Linked DNA regions of Homo sapiens: region 1 is linked to region 2. A link means that fine-mapping ties the variant in region 2 to the expression of a gene that starts in the linked region. Tissue or cell type: whole blood. Region 2 holds a variant in brackets; the other region holds the start of a gene. All regions are shown on one strand. Distances are from middle to middle.

What was found. PIP is the estimated chance that this variant, and not a neighbour inherited with it, causes the effect.
Region 1: RECK starts here. The variant in region 2 is fine-mapped to the expression of RECK in whole blood (INTERVAL, PIP above 0.99).

The regions. Positions count from the first base shown.
Region 1 is chr9:36,035,736-36,038,345 of GRCh38, forward strand. It overlaps RECK (reversion inducing cysteine rich protein with kazal motifs), which reads left to right and starts at 1,178. Exons shown (of 21, transcript NM_021111.3): 1 at 1,178-1,363. The coding sequence starts at 1,264. RefSeq lists silencers at 1,098-1,297, 1,308-1,457.
Region 2 is chr9:35,960,650-35,963,405 of GRCh38, forward strand. No RefSeq gene overlaps it. Among named protein-coding and RNA genes, the nearest start is that of OR2S2, 3.9 kb to the left of the region's middle. The variant G/A (reference allele first, on the strand shown) is at 1,072.

The DNA.
Region 1 (2,610 bases), 75 kb after region 2:
ATAATATTAAGGAATTTTAAAAATGTTTTAAGTAATTTAGCCCCAGGTGTCTTCATGAGAATTTAAAACGGTGGTCATGCTTTTTCAAAAAAGGAGGAAAAAGGGTTTAATTCAGGAACACACAGAGAAAAAAAGAGACAATGAATTAGCTTTGCTAGCCAGTGGCTTAAACATTCTCCACGTAGCTGCTGGGCTGATGGGTGGGGTGGGACCCACTTCCAACTTGTCTCTTGGACAAAGTCTATACTTCTCAGCCGGATATTCAAGGCTTTCCACATCTAGGTATACAAGCGTTCTCCTATCCTCTTTTCCTATCAGGAATAGGTGCTTAATAGTAACATCAAGGCCAGGCACAGTGGCTCACGCCTGCAATCCCCGTACTTTGGGAGGAGGAGGCTGGGGGATTGCTTGAGGCGAGGAGTTCGAGACCAGCTTGAGAAATATGGTGAAACCCCTTCTCTGCAAAAAAAATATAAAAATTAGCCAGGCGTGGTCACCTGCGCCCGTGGTCCCAGCTATTCAGGAGGCTGAGGTGGGAGGATCGCTTGAGCCCGGGAGGCGGAGGTTGCAGTGAGCCGAGATCGCGCCACTGCACCCCAGCTTGGGCGACAGAGCGACTCTTGCCTAAATAAATAAATAAATAATTTTTAAAGTACAACAAAGACACATTGAGGCTATAGTGCCAAAGAGCTCTAGTGATGAACCCTTGTCAGGGGGCCGTGTCTGCGGGAGGCCGAAGGATCCCGGGTGACATGCTTTCTTTGGGTGCGAGGCAGCGTCTCGGCAGAAAGAATATTGCGAGTATTACTGAGGGTACATGAAGGAGAGAAGCCCCTTTGGTTCGGCCTTGGACTAAGCCCTTGTTCTCAGGTGAACTTGCAGTGTGATCTTGAGTAAGGTCAGTCTCCTCTCTCACCTCAGTGGCCCGAAACCTCAGGAGGTGGCAGAGGTTTTCTAATGACTCTCCCAGCTCTGACATCCTCTGACTTCACTCTGGGAGAACGTGGGCTGGTGGACTCCTGGCAGAAGCCGACACACAGTTGGGCCATAACAAAGAGCCCTGGTACGGGGCACGTTCCCGCCCCCGGGAGGTTTTGGAAACACTGTGAGGCAGGGGGCGGGGCTTGAGCGGGCCGCAGCCAGTCACCAAAGGGCCGGGCGCTGGGGGCGGGGCCTCGCGCGAGCGGCGGCGGTAGCGGCGGCAGCGGCTGCGGCCAAGCTGGGTCCGAGCATCCCGCGGCTCTGGAGCCGCCCGGCCCGGACATGGCGACCGTCCGGGCCTCTCTGCGAGGTGCGCTGCTCCTTCTGCTGGCCGTGGCGGGGGTCGCGGAGGTGGCAGGGGGCCTGGCTCCGGGCAGTGCGGGTGAGTAACCTCCAGAGCAACGGTTCGAAGCTGTCGGGAGCGGCCGCCACAGCGCTCCAAGATGGCGCGGGGCAGGGGGCGGGGGTGCGCGCGACCCCCAGACCCTGCCCACGTCCGGCGACCCCGGGACCCCAGGTCTCAGCGCTCCAGAGGCTGGTGCCGAGGCGGGGCGAGTGAGGAACTCTCTCCGCCCCAAGATCTTCTGGGCGGTGACTCGGGTTTGAGGCCTTGGTCTGTCACCCACCGACACGGGCCCCCTCTTCGGCACTGACCCCTTCGCTTGCCTCTGCTGCTTGTCAGAAAAGGGTGCGATGCCCCCGCCCAGGATCGTCGCGAGGTTTAGATGGGATTTCGGATACGCAGCCGCCCTACCGCGGCCCTAGTTAGTTATTGTTACTTGTTACTTGACCCGCACTTGGTTCATAACGACCTTGGTGGCGGTGAGCACTGACGGTCCCCACAGCCCGCGTGGTGGGTCCTGGACTCGGGCAGGAGACATTAAAAATCAGTAAACCCTGTCCCCCGGGGGCTGGCAGGCTTGAGGAGAGAAATTCTTGCTCTACAAGAACTAAACCAAGGATGGATAGGAAACTGTTAAGTGCTTATTGATTGCTTCCCGCTTGCTGGCCTTTTGAGTGCACGCCGACTCCTTCCGTCCAAAAGCTCTCTCGGTAGGAGATGGGGTACAGCAGGAGATTGAAGTAACTCGAATTCAAGGCAGAAATGTCCAGAGGAAATGAAGGGCCATGTATGAGTGCACAGAGGGAGAGAGGACATCGACCTAGGATGAGTGGAAAGTGGAGTGATTCCCCCTAGCTGTACTAGACATTGAAAGATGGCTAGGACGTGTGCATGCAAAAGTGGTGAAGTGCATTGCTTACAGGGAGACAGGCAGAGACACCTTAAAAAAAAAAAAAAAAAAAGCAAAGTCAGCCGGGTGCGGTAGGCTCTCCCCTGTAATCCCAGCACTTTGGGAGGTGGAGGCGGGCGGATCCCTTGAGCCCAGGAGTTCGAGGCCATCCTGCTTAACATAGTGAAACCCCGTTTCTACTAAAAATACAAAAATTAGCCGGGCATGGTGGTGTATGCCTGTTGTTCCAGCTACCCGCGAGGCTGAGATACGAGGATTGCTCGAGCCCCGGGAAGTTGAGGCTGCAGTGATATGCCACTGCCCTCGGAAGTGAGACCCTGTCTCAAAAAAAAATCAAAGTCAGTTCCAACAGGGGTATTAACTATAGCTAGGTTTC
Region 2 (2,756 bases):
TAGGCCTCAGTTTCCCCATGTGCTCCATGAGAAGGCTGAATAATTGCTTCCCAGGGCATCCCAGCTCTGAGGGTTGTCGTGGACCCTCCAGTGCTGACCTCTGCAAGCAGGGAGCGGTCCTTGATGAAGGTGGCTGCCCACACTGATGAATGTGAGGGGTGTGTGTGTGTGTGTGTGTGTGTGTGTGTCTGTGTGAAGGGGAGATCTGAATTCCTGGTTGTCCATCAAGAAACATTCAACAGTTAGTAGAGCTATGTCAGGTTTTGGAAGGGATTCAGAATGAAAGCAAACAAAGAGGTCTGGCACCTGCAGCCCCATAAGAGGAGGGAGAGAAGCGGGGAGGTGGGAGGCAGCTAGGGAGAGCAAGGGGAAGAGGGGAAGCTTTGGGCTCAGTGGCCGCTTCCTGCAGGCATGGAGCCTTGGTTTGTCCCAGGGACCTGGCTTGGCTCATGGTCTTGTCTCTACCTGTTCTGGAGCCAGCAGGCAGATGAGAAGTAGGAGGCAACGTGGTGCTGTAAAAAGAGCGCCATACACTCTCATGCAGCCTTTCTGGAGGGAAATTTGCCTAGGAAAAGGAAAAATTCAAAAAACCTGCCTGCCCCTCACCTCAGCTGTTCTCCCTTCAGGAAATGTGTTAAAGAATCAGTGAGCATGGAGGCCAAGATCTCTCAATAAAGGTATTTATCACAGCAGTATTTGTGAATGAAAATAGAAAACAATACAGCTCTCCACCAATAAGTGCCTAAGTAAATCATGCTTTTCACATAATGGAATATTAGACAGACCTCATAGTCCTATTGGTAATTTTCTCCATGCTAATATTACTATAGCATAATGATAAATTAAAAGGGCAAGGTCAAACTTGCACACACTATTATGATCTCAATTAGGTAAGCAATCATGTGGATAGAAAGTGACTGGAGGCCGGGCGCAGTGGCTCACGCCTATAATCCCAGCACTTTGGGAGGCCGAGACAGGCAGATCGCTTGATGTCTGGATTTCAAGACCAGCCTGGTTAACATGGTGAAACCCCGACTCTACTAAAAATACAAAAAACGTTAGCAGGGCATA[G/A]TGGCATGTGCCTGTAATCCCAGCTACTTCGGGGGCTGAGGTGGGAGAATCATTTGAACCCGGGAGGCGGAGGTTGCAGTGAGCCGAGATCACGCCATCGCACTCCAGCTTGGATGACAGAGACTCCATCTCAAAAAAAAAAAAAAAAAAAAAAAAAAGCGACTGGAAAGAAAAGATAGCAAAATCCATAGGGGCAGAGCATTCCTCTCGGTACCTCTTCAGTGTTTCCCAAATTTTCTCTGAATACCATGGATACGAGTTATTTTGTATTCAGAAAAAATCTCAGCATTTCTCAGAGGCGGGTGAGAGAAACGGAAAGCGCTAGCCGCAGAGTGGGCTTAGAGACAGGGCTGGGTACAGGCCCACCTGCCTCTCGCCCCCTGACCCTGAGGGAGTCCGCTTTTCCTCTGAGCCTCCCTTCCTCGCCTGTGGAGTGGGATGGAAGCCCTGCCAGGCCCCCTCGGGGCTTGCGTAGGGACAGAGCAGCAAGGACAGGGAGGGGACTTGGTTCATGGGGTCCCCGGCGGGCACTGGGAGCCCAGCAGCTCCTCTCTGCCCCAGCAGCAGCTGCTGCTTAGGACCAGTGGCAGCTGGGAGGTTTCTGGAAGCAGAGGCGGGGCGAGGAGGAAAGCGCATCTGAGGCAAACGTCCTGCAAGAGGCATGTCCCCATCCCTGCCCCGCCCCATCCCTGCCCCCGCCCCAGCCCAGCTCTCCCCATCTGCTTCTTGCGCGATGGCCGCTTCTGAGTCTCCTGATTCCACACGCAATTCTCAGTTCCTCCCTGGATCCCTGGCTAGACACTGTGCCAGAGAAAGACCCCCGACATGCCCCTGCCTTACCTGGGAGACCCTCTTTCTTCTTTTTCCTCTTAAATCGTGTGGGCACTTTAGCCTTTGGTGGTGTTTCTCTCACTTCATTCCTTTCAGCTGTGCTGGCTAAATGCTGCTGTCCCAGCTCCAGACTCTTCATGAAGAGGATCTGGCTTCCTGGCCTGAGGCCCAGAAATCCCGAAGGTAGGTTTTCCCCAGCAGCCGAAGGAATCCTCGAGCCGCACCGTGTACTCTATGGGGCCCCTGACACATTAGTTACTCCAGGGCCCTGCTAATCCCACAAGTAATTTAAAGTTTGGAGTGCCACATGTGCACAGGGCACAGGTCGATGCATACCTGGGAGCTCCAGGGACCACACCCCATCCCAATTAGAGGTGGTGACAGGGGCCCAGCCACTGGACATGGAGAGGAGACCTCAAAAATGCTGGCTCCCCCCTGAGCTTTCCCTCAGGTGTCAGAGAAACAAAGATGGTGCTCGCTTCAGGGAAGAGCACCTTGTCCCCAGGTTGAAGTCCTAGAGATCCAGAATGGTTGACAAGACAGATGTCTTCCAACAGCAGCAGCAGCAGCAGCACAAGCTCCATCTATGGAGCGCTACCATGTGCCGGGCACACTGACAAACACCGTACATATACGGTATGCATGTGACGCATGTGTGTTGAGCACCTACTTTCAGTCGGCCCAGGAGATTCGTATGATCCCCCGATGTTTTCATTTGAGGGACAGCCTTCAAAAAGTTAAGCAATTTACCAATGATCACTAGTGAGTGGCAGAGCTGGGATTTCAGTCTCAATACACCTGATTCTCTTTTTCATCACTTGTAGTCATCATCATCATCATCACCACGACTGTCA